Linked DNA regions of Homo sapiens: region 2 is linked to region 1. Evidence: fine-mapped expression QTL. A gene starts in region 1. The other region holds a variant in brackets. All regions are shown on one strand. Distances are from middle to middle. Region 1 holds the start of B3GNT5 (UDP-GlcNAc:betaGal beta-1,3-N-acetylglucosaminyltransferase 5). Region 2 overlaps MCF2L2 (MCF.2 cell line derived transforming sequence-like 2).

Region 1 (9,628 bases):
GTGTCTGCCTGTTGCCCAGTGGCAGTTCCTACGTCCCATTCTGGACATTGTCTTTAGAAGCAACACTTGATAGAGGGTTTATAACACAGAGGTACAAAAAGTAGAAGATGGTGTAAAACAAGAGGTATATGTAACATGTTTCTGTCTTGGTGGATCAACATTTAGTCTAAGTTAACTACCATTTATTAAGTGCCTGCCCTATTCTAGGCATTACAGCGGGCAGCCCTGAAAGTAGGTTAATACGTATATTTAACTAATTCAACAAACATTAACTTATCACATACTGTGTAGTAGGCCATGGGCAGGATAGGATGCTAAAAAGACTTCAGAGATGTTTCAGGTGTAGCTCTTCTATCAAAGGGTCAATAAATATTCCAGTGCAAGCTGGAATCTGGACCTGATGGTGGTGAAAGAGAGTAAAAAAGCCGAGAGTGTTTAAATGCCAACAAAAGTAGATGTATACTGTGCCTCTCCATTTACTAGTCACATGAGCTCGACTTGTCTCTAAACCATGTACCAGTGTTTTCTCAGGATCATTTGAGATAACTTGTTGACAATGTCAGTCCAGATTAGATGTTCCATCTGTGCAAATTTCCTTTCTCTAGAATCTGTTTGTGTAGCTTTACCAGGATGGGTTAGTTAATGGATGGCTGATTTTTTTTTCAGGTTTTTTTCTTTTTAGAATACTGAGCTATACTCATAATATGCTTCTTCTCAAAAAACATTAATTAGGTAGGAGTTTTTAAAAATACTGATCTGATGGCTAAGGGCCATTTAACACATCGCAAATACTGTTGAGGCAGAAGTATCATCCCTAATTGACTGAATATGGTCCTTCTCATGTTCCCCATTATTCCATTAATGGAATAACGGTCTTCCGTTATTCTTGTTCCCACAAGCACTTAAAATACATTTCAATTAGGATGACACAGGTATAAGATTATATGGTCCTCTAAAGTAAGAGAAGGAAACTTGAGGTGAGTCCATCCTTGAACTTACTTTGCTTAGAGCACTATGAAAAAGTTATAGGAAGTTATAGGAAAGGAGCAAAAGAGTCAAATCTGAAATATTAGGTGGATCTTAGGCTGTAGAACAGTATTTTGAACTTGAACTTTTGGGCTTTGTTGCCTACACACTTGGTAGAACATTCTCTTTTGTAGAGAACTGGCTTCTAGTGTTAAAGCCTTCTATGGAAGAGAAATCTGAATAAGTTACATATCAAAGCCAGCAACTGAATTTGTAGAATTAAAATGTTTCTAAAAAATCGCTTTTTTATTCAAATCTTGTATCTCACCTGATCAAGTTTCTTATCCTTTAAATATAAAGATTCTTACATCCCCTATATATATGTAAACTAATACATAATAATTAGATATTGCATACCGTAAGGAAAGTAATTCTAGATTTACACTGTTCTGGTTACATCTTCGCTCACAGAGATTCGATATCAAAGGGCAGAGCTCTTGTAATTTACTGTGCCTCAGTTTCTGGAACACAGATACAATGAATTCCTCTCCTTACAAGGTTATTCTAACAATGCATTAAAATAATGGCTATGGAAATATTTCAGAAAAGGCATAATGTATTATAAAAATTCAAAGCTGAGATCTATTTACTTCAGCATATATAAAATTCCCCCTGAATAGGGGACATTTTGTTACTCTGAGAAGAGACAATTTCCCTCTGAATTTCTCCCAGTTTCTTCCTGATACCTCCTGTGTTCTGAAATGCAGATTCTAGTGCAATTGGGCCTCAGAAAGAACTGGACCCTTTACAATGTGAAAGTCACCAAGTGCAATGATTCTAGCCAAAGTGACCCATTTTAAAAGATGACCCATTTCAAAACCCATGAGTTATTATTCAAGCTGTTCTATTTTTGAGAATTAGAAAGTTTTCTTTTTCTTTTTTTTTTTTTTTACAATCTCACCATTTGAATGTCTTTTATGAAAAGAGAAAACTGATCACCATTTTAATGAAATACAATGTTTCATTTTTTACTTGATGGGGCCTGCACTTTATTTTGAAAACTCTTCTGCACCTTCTGAGTTTTCTCTGGGCAGAGCAGTTATAAGCATCTCTACCTCCTACTCATCCTCATCTCCCACTTTCTCAGGAACAGCTGCTCTGAGCTTTGGCTTGGGCCTTTCCTGTGATAACACTGGTTCTACCTTAGAGCCTTGCAGGGCCGGGAAGGGTCAGCCTGAGTCAGCCTCCTCCTCAGAGTGCTCAGTCAATGCTCAGAGCGTGTGCGGGAGGATAAGGAAGAGTGAGAAGGACAAGCAGGTTAAGTACAGAATGGAAACCTTTCTGGTATTGCGTTTAGCTTGCTTTAAAAGCAAAGAGTTGGCCCCAAAAAGCAGCTTTCACCTCCTCACTTGTGACCAGATAGAAAATCTACCATAAATTTATTTTGAGAAAGTTATAACGTCTGCTGCTGATCACTAATCACCCTTTCAGAAAGTTCAGGGTGGAATCATTTCGGTGCCACCACTTAATACAACTACCTTCAATCATCCTTTTCTGGGTCAACTTCGGCTTTTCACATTCCTCTCCCATCCCCCACAGGGAACAGGCAAGGTTTCCCAAAATAAAGGCACAGACGCACAAATCCAATTCTGATGGATGTACTTTCATCAGATAATTACCATAAATATGAGCCTCAGGCCACCATCGGCCACTGTGCGGTTACCACATCGGTGTACCTTTAACATGATCCATAACCTAAGAAAACCAACACCGGCCAAGAATGTACAGGGTGTAGTCAAGAGTCGAGTTGAAAACTGTTACTTTTACCTATATGGTATCCAAGCAAGCAATTGCCTCTGTCACATCAGGATTCAAAATGAAATGAGGCAGAGTCAAAGGAAAGAGTGGCCACGACCTCCCCGCCAGGGAGATCTGCGGCTGCAGTCTCCCCGCCTGCCCACTTCCCTGTCCCCATTTCCCCCGCCAGTAACTCGCCGAAAGCGTTCTCAGGTTGGCGGTTTCTTCTTTCCAGCCCGACACGGGCTTTCGACTCGAATTCAGCCCTCCAGCCGGAGGCGGGTGGCCGCAAGCCTGGGGCCCCCGGCCGGCAACCGAATTGGTGGGCGCGGCGTTCGCCTCGCGGCTCCCGCGCACGGGCCTGTCCCGCCACCGAGGAGCCGGAGCTCCTCAGGGACGGGGACCCGCAGGCCCCGGGAAGCCGCCCCAACCGGAGCTGCCCGGCCCCCGAGCCTACCTGCCGCACCTGGGCGGCGGCCCGGCCTGGGTCCCAGCCGCTGGCCACCCGCGCGGGCAGGCCGGAGGGAACAAAGGCGTTCCGGGGAGGGGACGAGCCTCCTTCTCCGCCGCGCTTTCAGAGGGCGGGCTGCCGGGGCCCGCGGTGGGAGAGGCCTCCCCGGCTTCCCGACTTCCCGGCGCTGGGCCGTGCGCGGTCCGGGCCAGGGCGGCGGGCCCCGATCCGGTGTCCACGCCAGCCACGCGCCCCCGGCCCAAGCGCGCGTTCCCACCTGAAGTCCTGGCGCCACCCGCCGGGCGAGGGCCGGCGTGCCCTCACCTCCTCGCCACTCTTCTCCTCCAGAGACCTCGCTCGGCCCGGAGTGGGCAGACTCGGAGCCTCCCGCGCCGGAGACCGCGAGCCGCTCGGCCGAGGAGGCGCGGCGGGGCGGGGGCGGGGCGGAGGGGCCGGCCCGCAGCCCCCAATGCCGGGAGCCCGCGCTGGAGACCCAGGGAGCCCAGCTCGGGGCCGCGGCACGGAGAACGAACCATCCGTGGCCTGGAGACGTATCCCGCCGAGCGGCCAGAACTTTCCCCATTTAGCGATCCGGAAAGGAAGCCAACACTCCCACCCAGAGAGGCCTCGGCCGCGGAAAGATGCGGCCGCGGCACAGCCGTGTTTTCACCACGTAACTGACCACAGACTAACTCCGCGCGGAACCACCGGCCCAGGGCGCTCCGCCAAGAGGCGGACTGTGCTGGCCTCGCGGGCCCTACGCCCAGGGAACGCCGCGGTTCCTCCCACACGGGACACCGGTTCCGCAGCGCCGCGGATTAGGATGGTCTTTTACTTTCCGAGCGGGAGCTCTAACGCAGGCTCAGGCGGGTCTTGTTAAAAGGTTTCTGGTCACACCACTTATGCGTGGAGCTCTGGGGGCCTCAGTAACAAAGTAAGGAAACTTACAGCAAACTAGGGCTGCACTGCCGCTGTCCGTTTCTAAAATACGAGAAGAGGGGGAAACCCCGCCCCAGGCCAGCTTCCCAGTGACTTTACCTCCAAGTCCAGCTTCATTTCAAGGGCAGTTTAGAGCGAAACTCACGAAGTTCAAGCCCAGCTCTTTAAATGTCCAAATCGGAGGTCGGCTTTCCTTCCCGCATCGGAGCTAAAGTCGCTGGTCTCAAGAACAAAACTTGCGGGCTTTAAATCTTGGGCGAGGACTGGACGGGCAGCGCTGGACTGGGCTCGCTTCCCCGGCGGGATGCGGGCTGTATGCGGGCGGGATGGGGGCGGGCCCGGGCGGGGGCGCGAGGCTCCCAGCCGCGCGCCCCGCACTCTCGGCGTCACGGCCCGAGCCCGGCCCCGCCCGCCAGCCGCCACCCTCCCGGCGCGTAGGTGAAGGTGATGGGCCCCGCCCCAGTTTGTTCTTGTCTGTAGATGAGAATTCCAGGAAGTGTTTCCCTGCCGCTCGTCAGTTAATTGCGATCACTTACTCAAATGGCCAACTGGAAGCCAGAGTGCACATGAATGTCCTCTTTGAGCTATTTTCCTCCTTTAGAATACTTCATGCAGGTAACCAGACAATATCGAGAGATGCGGACTTCTACTCAACGAGAGAGATTATAAATGAATCCTGGATGCGCTTGATTTCTTGTTTCCCGCATGTTGTTAGACCTCTCCCTAAAGCCACAAAACATTTAACGGAGATAATATTTTGAGCGATTCTGTTATTGTACATATTTCAGAACATGACAGAAAAGCAAAAGATTAACCCAAATACTTTAGTAAAATAAAAGCTTTGAGTTTGTCGTAAAAGGAACAAGACAGGTAATGAGTTAAATGTATGATTGTCGAATCAGGGTTTAAAACAGTGGGGCCAGCAGACACGGTGGCTCACACCTGTAATCCCATCACTTTGGGAGGCTGAGCCGCAGGAGGATTGCTTGATCCCAGGAGTTAGAGACCAGCGTGGCCAACATAGCAAGACCCCATCTCTAAAAGAAAAAACACACACACAAAATGAAAACTGTTGTTCATTCAAACTAGATTTTTAGGAAGTTTTTAAATTGCTTTCCTTAAGCTGGTCAGCATCTTTTAAATCATGCAGTTCTTTTCATATGCTGCCTACACAGGGCATGGCTCAGCATCTCCCAGACTGTGGCACTGCATGTTCATCAGACCACAGACAGAAATATTTACATGTGTGATTTGCAAAGGAGTCATTGACAGTGACCCACAAATAAGCTGATTCATTGTTAATACAGCACTAATGACATACCTTCTCTAATAAAATGCTGACTGAAATCCCACATGCATTTCCCCCAGCCATCACATGTGTATGTTGTATATCTGTGCAAATATTCAATTACAATTATATTCCTTTCAGATCATTTGGAGCTAGGTCCATGTGTCAGTATACATATGTTCCACATACATGAGCACATAGAACTGTACCCACGAGAAATACAAACTGACCAAAACAGTGGTAGACACACATACAAATCACATATTCACATCATACTAGATACAGATAAACACACCAGATAGATAAATGGTTTCAAAAGTATGTCTGGAGATTGGAAATACGATGCAAGTTTTTTGGTGGTAGGAGGGAGAGATGAGAGGGTGTGAAGGAGAGATAGGCAAGGTCAAGTAGTCCAGAATGCCCACTCTGGGATCCACACAAGCTCAGATCACACATGCGAGAGGACAGGCAAGTCCCCTTTGCTTGTTAGGGAAGATTTCCTAGAGCAGCCTGGCTTCCTGTCCCACCCAGAGAGAGGGGAAGAGAATGACAGATTTGATGGTATTGATGGTGCTATGCTCAGTTACTTTTATCAAGAGGGAGTGCATGAAGATATTGAGATGTGTTAGAAATAAACTTAGGTAATAATAATGATGCTGACTTGGCCAGCATGAAGAAGGAGGACCGTGTTGGCATGCTTTCCTTATCCAAGTAGCAGCTGGTAAGCAGAGAGCCCTGTGATTAGATCTATACATGACTTTGGAATGACCAAAATCTGCATGTTAGACTCGGCAGGGATAGATAAGGCACAGAAAGAGCAGAGGAGTAGCAGATTTAGGAGAGATGATCAGAGAGTAAGGCACATGCATCATTAGTAGTGGGGAGGGGAGACTAAACCCTGAGTACAAGAGAACCTGGGAGATGGTGGGAGCAACAGGGGCCCAAGGAAGAGGCCTGTGTTACTAAAATCATGAAAGGAGAAGCAGGTCTGATAACCGAGTGGCTTAACACAGCTGAAGTGTAGCAGCAGTATCAGGCTTGACCTGTTTAGCGAAATTTGTCTTTCTGGATTCTGTTAGACCAGATTTCCTCACAGGCCCTATAGGGAACCTGTCCAGTGAATCTGTGAATTCAAACACATCACGGGCCATGTATTCTGAAGCAGGCCGGTGTTCATTCAAGGCCTGGGCTGTTAGAGAGACTCTGGTTGTTTCCTGACCTGGCTTCCTACACAGGATCTCTGGCAAGTTAGCAAACTTCTCTGTGCCCACAGTAATACCTGCCTGCAAGGGTGGGTGAGGATTAGTGCAATCGCAGTGACGGGTGGAGTGCTGAGCTCAGAGCCTGGGCTATCCCAATGGGCGGATGAATGGTCAGCATCCTTGAGCCCATCACAGGTTGCAGAAAGCTCCTCTCACCTGGCAGAGGTAGGCTCATGCTGTGTCCTGTCATCGTGCTGTAAAGGATCTGCTGTGTTTCACACCTCTGGGAATTTCACATCTGTTGATACAGCATCACCATTCAGACGATGCCCTATCTCCTTGGCTCCGCCGCCTCTTTCTCTGCCCCCCGGCCACCTCCCACCACACGCAGCCTTCCTTGGTGTTCTCTTCTCCGCACACATGCTCCTTGCTGATCTCACCCATTGTCTTTAATCTTGACTTACATTTCTTTCTTTTTTTTTTTTTTCTTTTTTTGAAACGAAGTATCGCTCTGTCACCCAGGCTGGAGTGCAGTGGCACGATCTCCTTTCACTGTAACCTCTGCCTCCCGGGTTCAAGTGACTCTCCTGCCTCAGCCTCCCGAGTAGCTGGGATTACAGTCATGCACCACCACACCTGGCTAATTTTTTATATTTTTGGTGGAGATGGGGTTTCACCATGTTGGCCAGGCAGGTCTTGAACTCCTGACTTCAAGTGATCCGCCCGCCTCGGCCTCCCAAAGTGCTGGGACTACAGGCGTGAACCACCGCTCCCAGCCCATCCTGATTTATATTTCTAGCCCAGATTCTCAGCTTCAACCTTAAGTGTCTTTGGGTATGTCACATCAATCTTCAGCTTAATATGTCTAAAATGGGATGTATAAATATGGGATTGGGAAATGGTTAATGGACAGGACTTGAATGCCCCAAAAGCAAGAATCCTCCTTTTTCTCACCAGTGACCCAGCCCAGGCTGTTATGTGTCAGTAACAGTCAGTAGTATTTTGTCACTGTATAAGTTATATGTCTTTTGCCTCAACTAGCTGTGGGGAGGGGAAAAAAGTTGTATGTCTGTTTTCCCAACTACTTTGAAAGTCTTCAGATCTCTTGTGGGTGGACACCATGCCCTGCTCTTCTCTGAGTCTCTCAGAGACTCCCCGTCTCCTTGCCACCCTCACAATAATGCCTGTCACAGAATGAATGCCTGGTAACTGCAGGTTGAATTGAATTTTTGCATAGCACTTCCACACTCATCAATTATTCAAACTTTTGTTCCAAGAATCCCATCCGTAGTACAGTGGCCCTGTGTACGTCTCCTTTGATGCCACCAAGGCCCAAAAGCTGACGCTGGAGACACACTAGCTCTTTGCTGCAGCTCCTGCTACTGCTTCTATGGCCTGGCACCCTTCAGCATCCTCCCTCAATTCCAGGGCCTCAGCAGTTTGATGAAACCACACTAGGTACACCCAGAACTGGAAGGTGAAGGGAACTGACAGCACAAGGCGGCACTCACCCGCAGGCCACTCTGAGAACCCGGTTTCTTCCATTTTCTTCTCTTCTGCATGGGGGAGGGGCCTCCTGGAACTGATCATCTCCTTCACACCAACGCATAAGGAAATCTCTTATGTGCCATCTGACACTCAGTGGGGCCTCTCAGGGACAGGGACAGGGACAGTTTCGGAGGGGCAGGCCCTGCTGGCTGGGACCCTCCCTGGTCCAGTAGAGCTGTGCTGTCAACCCTCCAACAGCCCCTGTGAAAATGGCCTGATACCAGCCCCTGGCAGTGAGTGTCTCAGCATTTCTTCTCCTTTTCCCAGCAGCAGATCAGACACACACTCCACACTCCCGGAAGCATACAGGGTTCTGTGCAGGTCCCAGAGGGCTGCCTCTAACTCAGCTCTTTCTCTCCTACTCAGGAGGGCACATGCAAATTGAGTGAGGGAGTGACATTTTTGTAGGAACAATCTTGAGTGCTGATTAACACATATTTTAAAAGACAATTGGCACTTAGTTTAGTCACAGCTATCTAAACTAAGCAAAACAATTTGTGTCCTGTGATGGGGTGGTACAGGGGGAAGGAAGACAATTACAGCCCCTGGAAATGATTATTGACAGCAAGATGGGGGCTACATGGCTGGCCCAGAGGCGATCATTTGTGTTGGGAATTTTGCACTTAGGTTTGGTTGTACTGATATTTATGGAACAACTAAAATGTAATTTTCTTTTTTTAAAAATATACATTTTTTTTGAGACAGGGTCTCGCTGTGTTGCTCAGGCTGGAATACAATGGCCGGTCACTGCTCACTCAGGCTTGACCTTCTAGGCTCAAGCAATCTTCCTGTCTCAGCCTCCTGAGTAGTGGGGACTACAGGTGCACCCCATCACGCCCAAATAATTTTTTTTATTTTTAGTAGAAATGGAGTTGCTCACTATGTTGCCCAGGCTGGTCTTGAACTCCTGGGCTCAAGCGATCCACCTGCCTCCACCTGCCAAAGTGTTAGGATTACAGGTATGAGCCACTGCACCAGGTCTGAAATGTAATTTTCTATTTCCCATTTTTAAATACTTAGTAATTACTAAGTGATAATTTCCTGCTTTACAGAGAGTACACGGTTCAAATCCCACTCAACCAATTTCCAAAAGGCAGTTAAAAGTCTTCCTAGGGTTTACATTGAGTACTCTTTAATACAAGTAGACTATTAGATAAAACTTGCTATGCTGAGATTTTCCTTATAGCAGTACTTCTAAAAAGCCAATTCTAAAGTCTATGATAAATTAATGTGATCTGAAACCATATACATTTAATGAATCAGTCTTGGTGGTCAGATGGTCCAAAGTTGTAAAGCCCAATATTAATACCTAATTGGCTCTGCAGATTTAGGGCTAAGGAATCCTAGGAAGAGAGAGCAACATCTCTGAGAGAGATGTTTGCATCATATTTAATAAATAAGTAAACCCTCTTGGGAAAAACAGGAATCTATTAGAAT
Region 2 (9,628 bases), 49 kb after region 1:
AATGCCCAATCAATTATGAATGAAGTACATATTTCCAGTATTAACTCAGAAATCATAGGGATTGATCTCAGCTAGAGGTCACTTAGGGAGATTTCTTTGTCTTGGTCCCCTTCAAATAATTTGTTCCTTTTGGTGTTTTTATTCAGGGAAATGAATTCTTATCTGCTTTAAGCAATCGAAGTTTTGAAAAATACCAGATAAAATGCCTCGCTCCCAGCTCATCTTGGTCCACTGTCTTTTGAAGAGAGCTCAGAGAAGGCAGGGTCATCTCATTTGGACTTTCAACCAGACATATGACAAAGGCAGCCTTGCTGGTGGAGACAGGGGCATCACAGTTTATGCCTAGAGTCAAACAGACTTCTTAAAAATCTGTCATTTGGTATTATCTTGGCACTGTTGACTCACTCTGAAAAACTCAGAGTTGAATGCAGTTACTATTTCCATTACAATGTTGTGAAGATTAGATCACAGTAAACTTTCTCTTTTCAGAACAAGCTTCATTTTCTCAGGTCCTCATATACCTGAAGCAGAAGTTAGGATGCAGATGGAACACACAGATGCTCATGGGTCCGCAATGCAGCCAAAATTCTATCTCTACTGGACATAATTGAAATGTTAATTTCTTGTCCCTTTGAAGGAGACTGTCATGTATCAAACATAGCACAGAGGAAATTGAATTCTGCTAGTTAAAATTGAGTCAAAAATATCACAGTCCCCGTATCTCTAGCTCAAGCATTTCTAACATTCTTTATGTATAGCATTACCTTTCATAGCTGAATTGATTTCCTTATATAACTAAATGGCACCACGCTCAGTGAAGCTCAAAAAATTGTCGTTTTGATTTAGTGACAGACCAGCCTGAATAGCACTTTTAGAATTGTAAACCTCAAAGAAGCATGCTTTATAAAATTTGAAAACAGGCCACAAAGGCTTCTTTCTCTGTCAAGTAATTTTACAGCTTCTTTTCCTGTATGTGTGTTTCCAAAAGGACGATATTGGAAAACTAGGCAAGCTGTTGCTGCACGGCCCTTTCAGCGTCTGGACAATTCACAAGGATCGTTATAAAATGAAGGATTTGATTCGATTTAAACCCAGCCAGAGGCAAATCTACCTATTTGAAAGGGGAATAGTGTTCTGTAAGATACGAATGGAGCCTGGGGACCAGGGATTATCTCCTCATTACAGCTTCAAGAAGACCATGAAGGTAAAGGGAGTCCTATTGCATCTGGGAGTCGCCCTATGCAGAAAAGAGAGAGATCGTTTTCCTTATTTTACAGATGAGGAAGCTGCAGTGTAGAGAGGTGAAGTTAACTTGCCAAATACCACACCACAGGGCTAGAATCCATAGCCGGGTCTGTCTGACTCCAGGGTCAGAGCTTATGGGCCAGGGCTGGCATAGGAGTGCCTTTGTACTAGAGAAAAAAGACTATATGGCAGCCAGTCTGGACAAACTAATTAGTAAAAGTACCCTCTTTCTTCCAGGCAAAGAGGTAAAAGAGAGTTGAAAGACTTAGTGATGAGAACATGGGCTGGATTTCATCTTAGACTTGTCCTTCTCAACGGTGTATCTTTGTGTCTAAGTGCAGGCATTGTCCTGACCTTGGGGTCTAAGGCACCCAGGCCCACACCAAGCATTGTTTTCTCACCTGTTTAGAAACTGTTTCATAGCCAGTTAGCTCTCAGGCTATGAAACACACACACCCACATACAGGAGCCACACCCATATATATTTATGCTGTTGTGATTAAAGCTGTTAATTTGTTCATAGTAGCCTTTGTTTTCTTTCTCCCCTTCCTTCCTTCCTTCCTCCCTCCCTTCCTTCCTCCCTCCCTCCCTCCCTTCCTTCCTTCCTTCCTTCCTTCCTTCCTTCCTTCCTTCCTTCCTTCCTTCCTTCCTTTCTTTCTTTCTGTCTTTCTTTCTTGTCTTTCTTTCTTTCTTTTCTTTCGACAGAGTTTTGCTCTTGTTGCCCAGGCTGGAGTGCAATGGCATGATCTTGGCTAACTGCAACCTCCACCTCCCGGGTTCAAGCAATTCTGCCTCAGCCTCCCAGGTAGCTGGGATTACAGGCACGCACCAGCATGCCCAGCTAATTTTGTATTTTTAGTAGAGACAGGGTTTCACCATGTTGGTCAGGCTGGTCTCGAACTCCTGACCTCAGGTGATCCGCCCACCTAGGCCTCCCAAAGTGCTGGAATTACAGGACTGATTACAGAGGCATGAGCCACCATACCTGGCCTTGTTATTTATGTTTCTGAATAGATCCTTATTCAGTTACTATTACGTAGAAAGTTGTAAAATACACGTTGAAGGAGAAATGATCTCTTCACTGAAAGGTTGAGGGCTGCAGCGCCTCCTGCATAAAGATACAGTAGAAAGTTAACAGTCTGTGTTACCTTCTGAAACAGATGAGACAGAAGACACTGTACCAGATTGTGTTTTATGCTGTCTTGGAGTCATTAAGAGAGGAAAGCAAAAACTTGAAAGGAAGATGAAAGAAGAGAGCTGTCAAGGATAGAAAGGATTAGAGTGATTGACAGGGACTATTTTAAAATCAGAAAACGATGGTATAGAACATTTCTCTTCCCTCTTTATAATAGCTGATGACACTTTCAATTCGCCAGCTTGGAAGGGGGAGCCATAGAAAGTTTGAGATTGCCAGTCGAAATGGACTTGAGAAATACATCCTGCAGGTAACGCTCATGCCTTCCCCATGGGTCTCCTCTACTCTTTCCTTATTGTGTTCCCATGACTTGACAAGTGTTTTCTATCTCATTAGTCTAACGGTCACTGGGAGAATAAAAACTCTGCAATTAATACTCATGGTAGTCTTATAGTGTTTTCTTATGTGTGATTGCAGGCAGCTTCAAAAGAAATCAGAGACTGTTGGTTTTCAGAAATAAGTAAATTATTGATGGAACAACAAAATAATATCAAAGGTAGGTTACCCCTGCTGACTTTCGTCTGTCGAGTTATACTGATTTCAGCTCAGTGGGGGATGTGCAAATTGGGGATATTGTGAAAGAAAATGGTTTGCTGGGAAAACAACTGTGGCCACATTTTCACAGTCCCTGGAAGCACCTATGCTTGATTTCCACTGTGGTGGAGGTGGAGGGGTTGTGTGATTGTGTGTGGTTGTGTTGGTTTGTCCCTTTTGGTTGTGTTCCCCCCACCACTTAATTGCCAAGGTCACCTTTAATCAAAAATCTGATGGCCACCCAAGAAAATGTTAACAGAGATTCAAATGGCCAATGCTACCTTTCAGACACTGTACTACTTTTTTTAAAACATCAAGATATAATTAACATGCCATCAAATTCACTGTCTAAAATATACAATTCAGTGGGTTTTAGATTATTCACAAGGCTCAATAACCATCCCCAGTCTAATTCTATTTTTTTACTTCTTACTTTTGTTTTTTGTTTTGTTTTGTTTTGAGATGGAGTTTTTGCTCTTGTCGCCCAGGCTGGAGTGCAGTGGCACCATCTGGGCTCACTGCAACCTCTGCCTCCCAGGTTCAAGTGATTCTCCTGCCTCAGCCTCCCGAATAGCTGGGACTACAGGCGCGCCAACACGCCTGGCTAATTTGTGTGTTTGTAGTAGAGACAGGGTGTCACCATGTTGGGCAGGATGGTCTTGATCTCCTGACCTTATGATCTGCCTGCCTCGGCCTCCCAAAGTGCTGGGATTACAGGTGTGAGCCACTGCGCCCAGCTGTTTTTTGTTTTAAAGTATTTAACAGCCTAATTCTAATTATACTTCCAAAATATTTTCATAACTCTCCCAACAAAAAAATTCTGTACCAATTAGCAATCATTCTCCATCTCTCACCTTTACCCAGCCCCTGGCAATCACTAATGTATTTCCTGTCTCTATTGGATGTTTTCTCTACACATCACATATATGGCCCTTTCTGTCTAGCTTCTTTCACTTTGCGTATTTTTTTAAGTTTCATTTATGTTGTAGTATCTATCAGTACTTCATACCTTTTTATGGCTGAGTAACAGTCCATTGTATGGATATACCATCTTTGTTTATCCATTCATTAGTTGATGAAGATTTGGG[G/T]TTTTTCCCCTTTTTGGATACTGTAAGTAAAGCTGCTGTAGATATTTTTGTACAGATTTTTGTATGAATCTTTATTTCCAGTTTTCTTTGGTGTATATATGTAGAATTGCCAGACCATATGGTAACTTTTGTTAACTTTCTGAGGAACTTCCAAATCATCTTTCAAAACAGTACCACCATTTCACATTCACACCAGCAATATAATAGTTGGGTTCAATTTTCTCCATTTCCTTACTAACACTTGTATTGTTCATTATAATAACATTATTATTATTATTATTATTATCATTGCCATCCTAGTGGGCATGTACTAGTATCTCATTGTGATTTTGATTTACATTTCCCTCATGGCTAGTGATGTTGAGCATCTTTTAACATGCATATTGGCCATTGGTATATCTTCTTTGTAGAAATGTCAGTTAACTCATTTGTATGTTTTTTAATTGGCTTGTCATTTTATGGTTGAATTGTAAGAGTTATTTATATATTCTGGATACTGGACTTTTATCAGATATATTATTTGCAAGTATTTTTTCCCATACTGTGCATTGTCTTTTTACTCTCTTGATAGTGTTCTTTGCAAAGAGTTTATAGTTTTAACTCTTACAGTTAAGCCTTTGACTCATTCCGAGTTAATTTTTGTATATGATGTGAATTAGGGGCCCAAGTTCCTTTTTTTACATGTGGATATCCATTGTCCTAGAACCATTGATTGAAAAGACTATTCTTTCCCCACTTTGAATGGTCTTGGCATCTTTGTTGAAGATAAATTGGCTTTAGGTATAGAATTCCTTGTTGACCCTCTTTTTCTTTAAGCACTTTGAATATGTCATCCCATTGCCTTCTCAACTCTGTGATTTCTGATAGAAATCAGCTGTTAATCTTATTGAAGAGTCCTTCTATGTGCTTGCTGCTTTCAAGATAATTTCATTGTCTTTGTTGACAGTTTGATTATGTTATCTCTAGGTGTGGATCTTGATCTCTTTGAATTTATATTTCTTGGAGTTTATAGACTTTCTTGAAGGTATAGATTAATGTTTTCATCAGATTTGGGAAATGTTCAGCCATTGCTTCTTTAAATATTATTTTAGCCCATTTATCCCTCTCTCCTTCTGAGACTGCCATTATGCGTCATTAGCGTGCTTGAAGGTATCTCACAGTCTCTGAGGCTCTATTCATTTTTCCTTCATTCCTCTTTCTTTCTCTTCCTCAGACTGGATAGATTCAATTGACCTATTTCTGAGTTCTCTAATTCTTTCTTCTGCCTGCTCAGATCTGCTATTGAGCCAGCCACTCTAGTGAATTTCTCATTCAATTATTATACTTTTGAAATCTAGAATTTCTGTTTCGTCCTTTAAAACAAATCTTTATATTTTCTATTTAATGAGGATTTGTTCTTGTGCTTTCCTTTAGTCTTTATATATGATTTCCTTTAACTTTTTGAACATGTAAAAATAGTTAAAGTATTGGTCTAGTAAAGTCAGTATCTTGGCTTCCTCAGGAACAGTTTTTTCTTTTTTCTTTTTTTTTCTTTTTTGAGACAGAGTCTTGCTCTGTAGCCCAGGCTGGAGTGCAATGGCATGATCTCAGCTCACTGCAACCTCCGCCTCCTGGGTTCAAGCAATTCTTCTGCCTCAGCCTCCCGAGTAGCTGGGATTACAGGTGCACGCCACCATGCCTGGCTAAATTTGTATTTTTCTTTTAGTAGAGATGGGGTTTCAACATGTTGGTCAGGCTGGTCTCAAACTCCTGACCTCTGGTGATCTGCCTGCCTTGGCCTCCCAAAGTGCTGGGATTACAGGCATGAGCCACTGCACCTGGCCTAGGAACAGTTTGTATTGACTGGTTTTTCTTTTTCCCTGGGTATGGACTGCATTTTCTTATTTCTTTACATGTCTCATTATTTTCTGTTAAAATTGCACATTTTAAATAACATAATGTAGCAACTCTGGAAATTGGACCTTCCCACCTCTACTGTTTGTTGGTGTTGCTGTTTATTGTTGTTTGTTATAGTGACTTTTCTAAACTAATTCTGTGAAGTCTGTATTTATGTGCAGCCATTGAAGCCTCTGTTCAGTTAGCTTAGTGATCTAAATACTAATGACATGACAGAGATTTCTTTAAACACCTGAAAGCAGTAAGTCTTCTAGTCTTTGCCAAGGGGCTCTGTGTGCACATTAGGGCACACCTTCACACTCAGCCTGGCACTTGACAGTTCTAGCCTAGCTTTCACTTTCTGTTTGTGCAGATCATCAAGATCAGCCAGAGGTAAGATCGTGGGGCCTTCGCAGATCTGTCCTGAACATGTTCACAGGAAATGTGTGCATGGTCTTCTAGAGTCTCATAAATATTTTGGAGCCTTTACAACCCTCTATGAGCATCTTATTCCTGAGCATTTCATTTTAAACCTTCTGATTAGCCCATGTTTGCCCCACTGTTAGCCAATACCTCGAGCAACCAAGAAGTTAAACAATTGCCTGTAATCATTTTCTACAAAGGCCTTTGGGGAAAAGACTTTTCACATTGGGCAAGTTCTGAGTCAGGCCTAATAAAGACAGACTTGCAGGTCAGGTATTCCTAGAAACCCGTGGACAGATCAAATAATGATAATTCTCTAAGAATGAGGCTCCATAGTTCCCCCATTCCTGTTCTGCCCCTCCCATGGCTGCCAGACTGCTGATTTTCACTATCATTGCAGGCTGTTCATTTCTAAGGCTACCACCAAGGAAGGGGAGGATAGAAATAGGGCAAGTTAAAAAGCTCATTAGTCATACTGAGACACAGCCATTTTCCTTGAATAAATGCTCTCCAGATTGCTGCAAGCCATCATTTAATTTCCAGTGTTCTCCGAAGACAAAAACCACATGATTATCTCAATAGATGCAGTAAAGGTCTTCAACAAAATTCAACAGCCCTTCATGCTAAAAACTCTCAATAAACTAGGTATTGATGGGACGTATCTCAAAATAATGAGAACTATTTATGACAAACCCACAGCCAATATCATACTGAATGGGCAAAAACTGGAAGTATTCCCTTTGAAACCTGGCAGAAGACAGGGATGCCCTCTCTCACCACTCCTACTCAACATAGTGTTGGAAGTTCTGGCCAGGGCAATCAGGCAGGAGAAAGAAATAAAGGGTATTGAATTAGGAAAAGAGAAAGTCAAATTGTCAAATTGCAGATGACATGATTGTATATTTAGAAAACCCCATCGTCTCAGCCCAAAATCTCCTTAAGCTGATAAGCAACTTCAGCAAAGTCTCAGTATACAAAATCAATGTGCAAAAATTACAAGCATTCCTATACACCAATAACAGACAAACAGAGAGCCAAATCATGAGTGAACTCCCATTCACAATTGCTTCAAAGAGAATAAAATACCTAGGAATCCAACTTACAAGGGATGTGAAGGACCTCTTCAAGGAGAACTACAAACCACTGCTCAACAAAATAAAAGAGGACACAAACCAATGGAAGAACATTCCATGCTCATGGATAGGAAGAATCAATATCGTGAAAATGGCCATACTGCCCAAGGTAATTTATAGATTCAATGCCATCCCCATCAAGCTACCAATGACTTTCTTCACAGAATTGGAAAAAAACTACTTTAAAGTTCATATGGAACCAAAAAAGAGCTTGCATTGTCAAGATAATCCTAAGCCAAAAGAACAAAGCTGGAGGCATCACGCTACCTGACTTCAAACTATACTACAAGGCTACAGTAATCAAAACAGCATGGTACTGGTACCAAAAACAGAGATATAGACCAATGGAACAGAACAGAGCCCTCAGAAATAATATCATACATCTACAACCATCTGATCTTTGACAAACCTGACAAAAACAAGAAATAGGGAAAGGATTCCCTATTTAATAAATAGTGCTGGGAAAACTGGCTAGCCATATGTAGAAAGCTGAAACTGGATCCCTTCCTTACACCTTATACAAAAATGAATTCAAGATGGATTAAAGACTTAAATGTTAGACCTAAAACCATAAAAACCCTAGAAGAAAACCTAGGCAATACCATTCAGGCCATAGGCATGGGCAAGGACTTCATGACTAAAACACCAAAAGCAATGGCAACAAAAGCCAAAATTGACAAGTGGGATCTAATTAAACTAAAGAGTTTCTGCGCAGCAAAAGAAACTACCATCAGAGTGAACAGGCAACTTACAGAATGGGAGAAAATGTTTACAATCTACCCATCTGACAAAGGGCTAATATCCAGAATCTACAAAGAACTTAAACAAATTTACAAGAAAAAAATCAACCCCATCAAAAAGTGGGCAAAAGATATGAACGGTCACTTCTCAAAAGAAGACATTTATGCAGCCAACAGACACATGAAAAAATGCTCATCATCACTGGCCATCAGAGAAATGCAAATCAAAACCACAATGAGATAACATCTCACACCAGTTAGAAAGGCAATCTTTAAAAAGTCAGGAAACAACAGGTGCTGGAGAGGATGTGGAGAAATAGGAACACTTTTACACTGTTGGTGGGACTGTAAATTAGTTCAACCATTGTGGAAGACAGTGTGGCGATTCCTCAAAGATCTAGAACTACAAATATCGTTTGACCCAGCCATCCCATTACTGGGTATATACCCAAAGGATTATAAATCATGCTGCTATAAAGATACATGCACACGTATGTTTATTGCAGCACTATTCACAATAGCAAAGACTTGGAACCAACCCAAATGTCCATCAATGATAGACTGGATTAAGAAAATGTGGCACATATACACCATGGAATACTATGCAGCCATAAAAAACAATGAGTTCATGTCCTTTGTAGGGACATGGTGAAGCTGGAAACCATCATTCTGAGCAAACTATCGCAAGGACAGAAAACCAAACACCGTGTGTTCTCACTCATAGGTGGGAACTGAACAATGAGAACACTTGGTCACAGGGTAGGGAACATCACACACCAGGGCCTGTGGTGGGGTGGGGGGAGGGGGAAGGGATAGATAGCATTAGGGGATATACATAATGCAAATGATGAGTTAATGGGTGCAGCACACCAACATGGCACATGTATACATATGTAACAAACCTGCATGTTGTGCACACGTACCCTAGAACTTAAAGTATAATAAAAAAAAAAAAAAGGAAAAAAAAATTTCGATATTCTGAAAATAAATTTTCTAACCATTTTTGGCCAGTTTTTTCCATGCTTTCACAAAGAAGAGAATTTGGGGACGGGTTTTTTCTCCACCATTTTCACTGATGTCACACACTGTACTCCTTTCAACAATTACAAATCATCTTTAAGCAGGCTTTATCCTTTCACTTTGTTTGCAGGGATATTTGGTGGGAAAATCCACAGCGAGCTTTATCAATTGAGTTCTGACCTTCCCCTCAGGTAATGTTACTAGGGTGAAGAAATGCCAGTTTCATGTGGAAAGTCTATCTTCCATCATTTATACTGGCAGTGGTTTGCATTTTGGGTAAGAAAAATCACATAAAAATGAAAAGATAACTTTTTTCTTTAGAGATAGCAGGAATGCAACTGGCTCACACTTTTTCTAGGTCTTCTATGATCATCA

Evidence for each region. PIP is the estimated chance that this variant, and not a neighbour inherited with it, causes the effect. A credible set is the group of variants that fine-mapping cannot tell apart.
Region 2: its variant is the best candidate, but not a certain one, in a credible set for the expression of B3GNT5 in whole blood (TOPMed, PIP 0.89).

The regions. Positions count from the first base shown.
Region 1 is chr3:183,248,097-183,257,724 of GRCh38, reverse strand. It overlaps B3GNT5 (UDP-GlcNAc:betaGal beta-1,3-N-acetylglucosaminyltransferase 5), which reads right to left and starts at 4,472. Exons shown (of 2, transcript NM_032047.5): 1 at 4,253-4,472. All of the region lies in intron 15 of MCF2L2 (MCF.2 cell line derived transforming sequence-like 2), which reads left to right. LOC124906310 (a long non-coding RNA gene) reads right to left here and starts at 8,508. Exons shown (of 3, transcript XR_007096189.1): 1 at 8,155-8,508; 2 at 6,860-6,941; 3 at 5,170-5,190.
Region 2 is chr3:183,199,184-183,208,811 of GRCh38, reverse strand. MCF2L2 (MCF.2 cell line derived transforming sequence-like 2) reads left to right here. Exons shown (of 30, transcript NM_015078.4): 23 at 989-1,204; 24 at 2,598-2,690; 25 at 2,858-2,936. Among named protein-coding and RNA genes, the nearest start is that of LAMP3, 41 kb to the right of the region's middle. The variant G/T (reference allele first, on the strand shown) is at 4,063.